Linked DNA regions of Homo sapiens: region 2 is linked to region 1. The links come from fine-mapping of genetic effects on gene expression. Tissue or cell type: nucleus accumbens. Region 1 holds a variant in brackets; the other region holds the start of a gene. All regions are shown on one strand. Distances are between the middles of the regions.

The links.
Region 2: it holds the start of CPVL-AS2, and the variant in region 1 is fine-mapped to the expression of CPVL-AS2 in nucleus accumbens (GTEx, PIP 0.93).

The regions. Positions count from the first base shown.
Region 1 is chr7:28,996,245-29,001,630 of GRCh38, forward strand. The region is part of intron 12 of CPVL (carboxypeptidase vitellogenic like); the gene reads right to left. It overlaps CPVL-AS2 (CPVL antisense RNA 2), which reads left to right. Exons shown (of 5, transcript NR_038965.1): 2 at 1-7; 3 at 4,725-4,811; 4 at 5,085-5,140. Among named protein-coding and RNA genes, the nearest start is that of CPVL-AS2, 19 kb to the left of the region's middle. The variant C/T (reference allele first, on the strand shown) is at 3,381.
Region 2 is chr7:28,977,884-28,983,269 of GRCh38, forward strand. CPVL-AS2 (CPVL antisense RNA 2) reads left to right here and starts at 2,084. Exons shown (of 5, transcript NR_038965.1): 1 at 2,084-2,215.

The sequences.
Region 1 (5,386 bases):
TTCTGGGGTATGTGAGGTCTGCCTGCAATGGGGTGGATTGTCTACTTAATTCCACCCTTCAGTTAGCCAGCCCAATTGTCCCTCACACTGAGCCATACCTTCCATTTTAGCCTTTATCAGTAATGAAGGGGAAATTTTGGTTCTCAAAAAAATTAAAAAACCAAAAACATCCTTGACTGAGGCAGGAAGATGACCTGAACCCAGGAGTTGGAGTCTGCAGTGAGCTAGGATCATGCCACATGCACTGCACTCCAGCCTGGTTGACAGAATGAGACCCCATCTCTTAAAAAAAAAAACCAAAAAACAAAAAAAAAAAAAACAAAACAAAAAACTTGACACTTGAAATGAAAGAAAGTCATGTTTTGAGCAGCATAGAGTTAGAACATTCTTTTTTTTCCTAATATTGGATTATAAAACATTTTAAAACATAGCAAATTCGAAAACAATTCATATAGTGACGATTTTGAGTCATGAACTTTCACTTTACTTGCTTTCTCACATAAGGGTGCCTCTATGCATCCCACACCCATCCACTAATCCATCTTATATTTTTGACACATCTCAAAGTAAAATGGGCATGTAGTGCACTTCCCCCACACACTTCAGCATCACATTATTCATCAGAGTTCAACATGTGTTTACAGATTTTCTTCTTTTGAGTCAAGTTAAGATACAATGAAATGCGCTAGTCTTAAGTGTAGACTCACCAGTTCTGACAAATGCAGACACCTACGTAACCCAAGCCCTTGTTGGGTGATATAAAGCATTCCTAAAACATCTCTAATGATGAGATCCAATCAGCAAAAGGGGACTGGTCTCTGTACTCGTTAAGCCTCTAGCGTCAGCTAATATTCCAAGTAGAGGGAAACGGGAAGCTGTCATGATTCAGTGCCAAAAGGGCAAGGACTGACACTGAGTGTTGGGAAGTTACATGCAGGAGAGGTCAGCCTGGCCTGAGATGTCTCGTTCCATATGTGGAGAATGGACAGGAGGTACCAGTGCATGAAGTGAATAAACGTATGCAAAAAGGACATCACTTTCAGTAACTTCTAGCTGCAGAATCACGATCAGCAATTAAAGGTCACCTTCACAAGGCCCTTCCTAAGAGGCTGGGTTCTTCTACTTGTCTCAATCTGAAGGAAACTGAGGCAGAAAAAGTATATTTGGATAGTACATTTATTATATTGAAAATCTGCCCCTATATCCCAACACCCTCCATCTTACAACCTTGACGTGCAGTAAGTAGGATTAACACTATTAGATGATATTTACCTTGCAGCTCGCAGCTATACAAGCTGTGCACTGAACAACTACAGGGAGCACCATTCACATGAGCATTGAGATGACTGAGCTATTTGGAATTATTCAGTGGCTTGTCCAAGTCACACAATTGTTAAGTGAGATAACTAGCTAGAACCCTGACTTCTGATGCAAACACCGGTGTGGTGTTTTTAATCAAACCCTCTACTCAATCATTCCTTATCTTTGAACTGAAATTTGCAGCTTAGTCACGGAACATTTTTATTCACCTCTCAATAGCCCTCTGAGGTTTATTGATGAAAAAAATTATTGCAGATATAAACATAATTTTCTGTATTTTTGTATTTCACATATTACAGTGAGGGAGGCAGATCCCATTTGCAGATGTGGGACCAGACTTAACTCTTTCACATGCAAATGTGAAACTTTTGTGTTTTGCTGCAGTTGATCAATGGTCATTTGTGCCTCACTGCAATGACTGTGAAACCCATCTACCATTTGTGTAGAAGCTTGCAACTGGAAACCCAGCATGCCCACTTTTTATCACAAACTGAAAGTAAACATGTGTGACAAGAACCCCTTCATAGGACTCCAGAGGGAAACTTTTGCCGCCCCGCAATCCCAGGCTAGACATTTCTTCCTGCAGATTTTCATCCATATCTTTGGCCCTGGCAGGAATCTGATGAGTGATTTCTGTGCAGCTTCAGCTCAGCTGAGGACACTTAACAAAGTCATATGTGTGACAAAACCCAGCTGCTTCAACTGGAAATGAGTTTGGCAGCAATGGTCCGGAACACCAATAAATTGAATACCCAAGAGCTAAAGGTCATCCTGCCCCCAGAACCAGTGCTGCAGCTAACAAAGGACAAACAAAGGATAGCACAGTGCTTCACAGCCTGGGCTCAGAAGTCAGAGTGCAGGAGCATGGCAAGAGGCACTGCACGTTGTGTGACCTTGGGCAAGGAACTTAACCTCACTGAGCCTCAGGTTCCTTTACTTTACAATTGGGAAACAAGTATTACCTCGTGGGGTAGTTGTGAGTTGTGTGAGGAGTTAGTGGAATAATGTCCCTGGAATACTTAGCACAGTGCCCGGCCTGGGATGGTCTTCAGTAAATATTGGTCATTTTCGTTATTCTTCCAACACTTATCTATATTGAAAATCCAGAATCAAAATGCCTATATCAGGAGGATTGCTTGAGATCAGGAGGATCGCTTGATTGCAGGAGTTTGAGGCTACAGTGAGCTGACTGAGCCACTGCACTCCAGCCTGGGCAACAAAAGGAGATCCCATCTCTAAATATAAATGAATATATATGTATATATGCTTATATGAACCTAAACTACCCTAGAACATGGTGTTCCTACATTTTCATAAAAAACCTTGGTTTAAAAAAGGTTGTTTAAAACAATGGTTCTTGGCTGGGTGCAGTGGCTCATGCCTGTAATCCCAACACTTTGGGAGGCTGAGGTGGGCGGATCATTTGAGGTCAGGAGTTTGAAAGAGCCTGGCCAACATGGCGAAACCCTGCCTCTACTAAAAATTAAAAAAAAAAAAATTAGCCAGGCATGGTGATGCACGCCTGTAATCCCAACTACTGGGGAGGCTGAAGCAGGAGAATCACTTGAACCTGGGAGGCAGAGGTTGCAGTGAGCTAAGATGGCACCACTGCACTCCAGCCTGGGCGACAGAGTGAGACTCCACCTCAAAAACAAACGAAAAAACAAAACAATGACTCTCAAATTTGAACGTGCATAAAAATACCTGAGCTCATTAAAAGAGATCGTGAGGCATCACCTCCAGACTTTCCAATTCGGAAGGTCCAGGGCAGGGCCTAAGAATTTGCATATCTAACAATTCCAAAGCAATGCTGATGCTGTTGTTCCAACTGCTTGTTGAAAACCACTGTTGAGAATTTTTTTCTACTCTGTGGCAAACCAGGGAATTCTCTGTTTACATCAAGGTAATTTGATTAACACCTACTCATGAATACAAGTAGAAATTTGTTTAATACCTACTCATGACCTCACTTCCTGGGTATCCGCTCTCCTGGTATTTACTCACGCACATGCGCACTCACACACACCTTCCCTGTCCATAATTATCAAGTGGTGAAGGAG[C/T]GCTGAAGGGGTCAGGTGTTCTTACTCTTCCTCTCAGTGACCTACCTGACCCTGGTCCAATTTCTGAGCTGCCATGTGTAATGACCCTAATGGCATTGTAAATTGTGTCATTAATATTGCGGGAAGAGAAAGCTTGTTAAGGGACAAAGTTGTTTCACATGCCACAAAATTCCCAAACAAAGCATATTCTTAAGCAGATTCACATACAGCATTTTACTGATATTAACTTCAAAAATAAATATATTTTTGAGTGTGGAAAAATAAACCACTCTTGTTTATAATCAAGCCACTCACCATTCACAAATCAAAGATAACAGACCACTTGGCAGCTTTTAGAGGTGAGTAACAAAATGTGTCAGGGCTGTAATTACGTATTTAAATGTGACAAGATTAATCTCAGGGCTCCCTGAATAGAACTGTCTATTTTGGGTGCCTCCACACTAGAGCTGCAGCCTCTAACTTCATGTGTTCCAGATGTTCCAGGGGGTCACAAATGTGTCATGAATTTCAACAGGGTTATACAAACACTTTAAAGCTTCATTCCACTTTATTTTTTAGAAAACAATATAATTCTCCCTGGAACTAGAAACAAAGACCTGCCAGTAAAGGTTTCCCAGTTGTGCCTGTTTAGATGACAGAAAAGAGAGGGAAGTTCACAGTGGGCTTGTTGATGTAGATGTGTCAGGGGAAGCTTCTTGGGGGTCTTGAAGGAGATCACTGGACGGAGAGTGGTGGGTGGGTGGGGTGGGGGTGGAGGGATCACCGCAGACAGAGGAAACTGTGTGTGGAAATGCAGGAGGCGTGGAAATGCAGGAGGCATGGAAATGCAGGGGCATGAAACTGTGGGCACGTGCAGCAGAGGGATCACCGCAGACAAAGGAAATTCTGTGTGGAAATGCAGGGGCCGTGAAGCTGCGGGCGCATGCAGCAGTCTGTATGTCGTCCCATTCATGCAGGAATAGAGGGAAACAGAAGAGACAGATGAACAGGCAAACGCTAGTGGGACCATGTGATGCCCCAAGTGACATGCTGGGATGAGTGGACCTTATCCTATCGGGCTTTAAAAGCAACTGTGGTAAAATACACTTAACATAAAATTACCACTTTAACCATTTTAAAGCGTATGATTCGGTAGCATTTAGTATATTCACACTATCTTGTTGCAGAATATTTTCACCACCCCAAAGGAAACCCATATACATCAGTAATCACTTCCCACTCCCCCTCTCCCCATCAGCCCCTGGCAACCATTAATCTGCTTTCTGTCTCTATAGACTTGCCTATTCTGGATATATCCTAGAGGGTTTTAAGTAGGGTAGTGACATGCTTATGTTTGCATTGTAGAAAAATGACTTAATGTCTAAGGAGAAGGCTAATTTGGAAGGGAGTCATACTGGTACAAGGAGGCAAATTAGGAGACTACCAAATCAGGTGAGAGGATGTGGGCTCATGGGAGGGATGGGGAGAAGGGGAAGGAGAAGAGGGTAGTAAGATGGAACCAATAAAATCAGTGATTAATCCGATATAAAGGTTAAGTGAGACTTTCTCTACCCATCCCCAACAAATCCTCCCCATTTCAGGCTTCTGACATGGGCAGATTTGCAAAGGTGGTGCTACTCACCAGGAAAGAGAAAAGAGCCACATGGGAGCTGCAAGTTTGGCAGGCAGAATATGTAGGATTGGTTTATTGTTTCTGCTTTCCAGTATAGAAAGATGCATACCCTCAAGAGAATCTGCTTGTTGTGGTTTCTGATTTACATGTAAGTTCTTTTCACTACTTTTATGCCATTCCACATTTACTAAATCTTATCTTTTAGTTTGCTTTCAGACACTAACTATAAGTAGAAATAACGTAAATAGCATTCAAATAAAAATATATTGAAAAGGTACTTGGGAACGAGAATAAAAAACAAGCCAAAGCTTGTTAGCAGACACTTCCTAACAAAGAATGCAATAAGTCACTTTCGAAAGAATGAAAAAACAGCAGAGATCAAGGCTGGGAGTTG
Region 2 (5,386 bases), 18 kb before region 1:
CACTATCACATATGAATTCTCATTAGAGGGCATCCACTGATGAGGCCCTCAGCAGTCCACTGACAGGATAGCCTGTTCTGTGGATGTCAGTCAGTCCATTTCCAGCAACCCCGAGGCTTGCTTAATAGGCTCATGAAGAGCATGGCCATTGTGGCAGGGAGAGAAGCCAGACATGAGTTCAACAATGTGGACTTCCCCTCATCAAACTGGTCTGGCTCCTGTCACTGATAAATGACTAACTTGCTGACAGGGGCTCTACCATCTCTGAGTCTCTGATGTGGAGTCATTCCCCAGGGGGACCAGTCAGCCATCAGATTATTGCATGGAACTTCTATTATGAAGGACATGATTTTGTCCTCTAGAATAGACACTATTTATTTTTTCTTTCTTTCTTTTTAAATAGAGACAGGGTCTCACTCTGTCACCCAGGCTGGAGTGCAGTGGTGCAATCATAGCTCACTATAACCTTGAACTCCTGGGCTCAAGTGATCCTCCTGCCACAGCCTCCCAAGTAGCTAGGACTACAGGCACTCACCACCATGCCCAGCTCTTTTTTAAAAAAAATTTTTTTGTTCAGACAGGGTCTCGCTATGTTGCCCAGGCTGGGACACTATTTCTAAATATGCTGTGCATTCACTGCCTGCAGTGGGTTTATCAGTACCACCATCTGTGAACTTAACACAGAGCCTTATTTAATAGCATGATGATTATGACCAAAGAAGTTCTTTGCTTGTGACCAAAGAACTAATTTTACAGCAAAAGTAGTACAGCATTGGTATCATGCCCATGGGACTTATTGGATTACCATGTACTCCAGCACCCAAAGGTAGTTATCATTACAAAATTTAGAAATAGATAACTGAAGTTTCAAAAATGGTACCATCTGGAAGATAACTGCCTGCAGTCTAGGTGGCTTTCTTACTGCACGTAGATTATGCTTTGAATCAGCAAATGAGTGATGCTATGTCTCTCATAGTCAGGATACACAGACCTGGGAGTCAAGGGGTAAAAATGAGAGTGGCTACTCTCACTATCACATCCTGAATATCACTCACAGAATATTTGCCCTCCTTCTACAAAACATAGATCAGCTGGTTTAAAGGTCTTGATTCCTAGGAGAGAACGCTTCCTCTAGGGGAAACAATAACGTTCCACTGAACTGGAATTCGATACTTCTGTCTGCCCATTTCAAGTTTCTTCTGCCACTAAATGGACAGGCAAAGAAGAGGGTTACTTTTCTGGCTGGGGTGACTGAACAGAATTATTACCAGGGAGTAATTGGGTTGCCGTGACACACAATGGTGGCAGAGAGGACTATGTCTGAAGCCCTGGAAATTCTCCTGGGTGCCTCTTAGCACTTCCATGTCCAAGAGTAAAAGTTTCTGGAATAATATTGCAACCTGCAGGACAGCTAAAGACTTAGACCCTTCAAAAATGAAGGTTTCAATAATCTTGCCAAGAAAAGAACCCCAGACAACTAACTTCAGTTGCTGGCTGAAGGTAAAAGGAAGATGGAATGGACGTTGGAAGAAGTTCATTCTCAATTATTATTTAACTATTATCATCATCAGTCAACTAGTTTTGTTACCAGTCACCAAAACAAAACCCGTAGCAGCTATGCACATTTTCTTCTTTGTTTACTCTGCATAACACTGAGTGTTGGTGGTTAATTTTACAACTTAGCCTTTAGGTTGTAGAACATCCATTATAAAAGGTGCAATGGTGTCTGAAAGGAAAAAATTTAACATCACCCTGGGATGAATACAGTGGCTGAGGCCACTATCTTACAGGGTTTTACTCTGAATTATCTGTTTTAGGGAGAGAGTGAACTTGTGTTCATCTGTGTGAGGAATAAAATTGCATTCTGTGAGGAAGAAGTGTGATGTTGCTGTAGGGTGCGTACAATGGAATGTGTGGATGCTGAGTAGCAAAAGGGTGGATGTGCTGGATTGTGTCTCTTGACTCTTAAGTCCAAGTCCACCCTTCTGGATAATCCTCCATCCTCTTTCCCAGACTCACTCATCCAGCTGGTTTCATGGGAGGCGCTGGTGCTAGGTTCCAGTGTGGGAGGAGGAGATTAGCCATTTTCCCCAGCTGGCCTGGACTGCCTGTGCTCTGGGCTCCAGCAATCCGGGGATAGTTTCAGCAAGATCAACACTGAGTATCCCTGACAGGATTCAGCCAAGGGCCAGTGGCAGCTTCCCAGCCTCTTTGGGTAAGAGCCCCTTCTTTTTTTGCTCCTCAGTCCTTCCAGTAGTTTTTAACCAATTTCCTGTGTTCCATCCTACTCTGCTTGAGATATATAGAGAGGTTTCTACTTTTGTGTTTGAGCACTGAATGATACATAGTTCCTTCCATATCAGTCCATAGTGAGCTTCCTCATTCTCTAGTCAAAAAAAAAAAAAAAAAAAAAAAAAAAACCCAAACAAACAAACAAACAAAACAGGAATACATCATATTTATATGAGAAGACCCAATAATGGATATTTAGACTGCTCTCAATCTGCTCTTTTAATCAATAAGAGTAGTAAGTACATTTCCATTTCAGGAAAGTATTATCAAGGCATATATTTGGAAATTTTTGTGTCTTACCCCACTTGGAATTTTACGCGCCAGAGCTCTTATGCAGGAATCTAAATGGCTGAAATAGGATTAAACTAGACTGTGGAATCTAGAGAGCGTTCAACTGCAGCTGGTTATTTATTGCTTAATAAGTATTTTGAAGTATTGTTCGGCTATGTCCTAGCCTTATCTCTTCCAAATGAATTGCAAGCACTCGGAGCTTGATTTTTTGTCATCTTTTGAATATGTAAATGTGTCATGTTGGGAGGGGGGTTGGTAGTACCTCCCTCCTCTGTGATTCATGTCACCTGAATGTGTCATCCTACTGGCAGTCTAGGAAGAGCCCTGCATAGGTCTTAGGTTTTCTCTTGAGGAAGGAGCTCATGACACAGCCAGCACTTCCACATAGGATAGTAGCTCAAATAGAGGTCCAGTTTGTTTTATTATTGGGCTTATTCCAAATTCCTTTCCTGGGGCACTGTGCTTTAGAAATGCTTTTTTCTTAATTATGAAATATTTTAATTGATTTGTGGGCAGTGCCTCTTATTCAGCCTGTGCAGCCAGTCCCTTTGGTCCAGCTCAGGGTTGGAGGACTGCCTGGACCTGTTCAACGCCCTCAGCCCCGTGAGGCCGCCTCAGGCCATCTCACCCATCTGACACTGCTTCCACTGACCACAGAATGAAGGCCTCTTTAGCTCTTTGCTAGCTCCATCCCCCAACTCTGTTTCTTGATTTTATCTTCTTTAATTAATGAAGTGCACTTTTGCTATCTTCTTAACTTTTAGGTATTCAGATGATTCTGCCGTTCCATTTCCAGCTCTTAGACTCGTTGAATGTTCTAAAATGGGAAAGGCTGGGTCCTGTTTATAGTTGCCTTGCCAACTCCCAATCAGCCTTTTCCTAAGGAAGATTTTTCTTTAGCCAGTCTACACTTTCATAGCAACTTAGAGTGTGACAGGAATCCTCAAACATTCAGAAGTGACTTGGCCGGTAGAGATCCGGAGTTGCATTTCTAGCATGAATATCCAGCCTTGTCCCTTGAGGGTTCAACTTTAATAATCTTTAACATAATCCCTTTAAAACACAAATCCCTGGCAGATCCAAGCTGCTTTGGTACAAAAGTTCTAGAGATTAAAACCAAAGCTGCTTTCGGTGGTAGTGCTGTTATACTGTCAATCCCATTGCCAGCCAAATTAACAGCATACATTTCTGATAACCCACCTAATGCTGGTAAGCAATCAATAGCCAGATTCATTTAACTCTCAGAAGCTTAAGTGCTGTTAAATCACATTTCCTGTTCATGGGGCTGAATCCTAGAAGATGTGCAAGAGTTGTTTTTTCAAGTACTCAGTGGAAAAAAGAAAGAAGGCATGTAAAGGAAAAGGTTTTAGTACTTATATGTTATATTGATTATATATAACATTTATATTCACTGTAATATTGAACAAAAATAGTTTATACTGATCATTTACTACACGAAACAGCATTACCTAAGATAAATGGTAACTGATTTGCTAATTTTCTAGATAGTCACATTCACAGATAAGTTCACAGCTGGATCAGATACACCGTTAACAAAAACTGGTTTTTAAAACTATCAAAACAGGAAGAACATGGAAACTTCATCCCTAAATCCTCAATGGCACATTGGAGATTTCTTAACGCGTATTGCTTTTCTTTTCACTGGAATTCCACATGCAAGTTGTGAAGTGCAAGACTGAACTATTAGAAGCTCCAGATTTGACATGATCGCAAATTAGTTTTACCTCTTGCTGGTACATATTCCCTATGTTCAGGTTCATAGAAATCCCAGAAAACACATAGGTCTCCATCTGAATTTTGGTCAAAGGATTCAGTTCTACCTCTTTCATCCTGGCCCAGTTTTACTGCTGGGAGTCTCACTGGCTTTCTCTTTAGCCGTCAACAAATTTGGAGCAAGCTTTTCTCTCTGGGAAAAGATTACATATGGCAGTCTGGATTTTAGTTTATATTTTCATTATAAATGAGAGAGTCTTTTAAAAAGCCACTTAAGAATCACTGCACAGCTTCATGTGGGATTTGGCCAACGGTTGTTGGGGTTCTAAGCTATTAAATCAGCTTTTTTCTAACTGCGAAAAGCAGAGGTTGAAATTTTATATTTTTTCAACTCCTCAACCAGTGGCTTAAGTAGTTGAGTTATTAAGAAGAAAACAATATGGAGTATTTTTCAGAATTAGACATTCGCTTTTGGTTTGTTTATCCACAGATGAAAAGAGTTGAGAAGATTTCATCTTAGCATATCTAATTTGAATTACATCTCTTCTACCAGAATCCTTTTCTCGGGCATAATGTAGCGGGAACCATCAGTTTGTTATTGCTGGCAGGTCTCAGCTTGTAACCAACAGAGGAATATTCCAGTCCTGCCATGACACAAAATAGAATTTGTATTCGTACTGGAAGAAAGGGTTGACTTTCTAAATACCTTATTGTAGTTTATGAGTTTAAATTAAGCTAGATTTTTTAAAAAATCTATTTGTAAGGGTCTCATTGCCTCTAAAGAGCAAAACTAGGTCAAAACTTCCCTTAACTTAAAGGTGGATAAACAATTCTATTTCACATAAAATACCATGAAATTGAAAAGATGACCAAACTCACAATTTCCCATTAGAAAATACCTCAGTTCATTCAACAATAAATATGAATGAACATTTACGAAGTGTCAGGTGCTCCACTAGGAGCTGTGAACACAGGACAGAATAAAACAGACAAAAGTACCTGTCCTCGTAGCTTTTCTTAAGGCTTTCTGGAATGAACTAAAACATTAATGAATTGTTAATATGAAAAA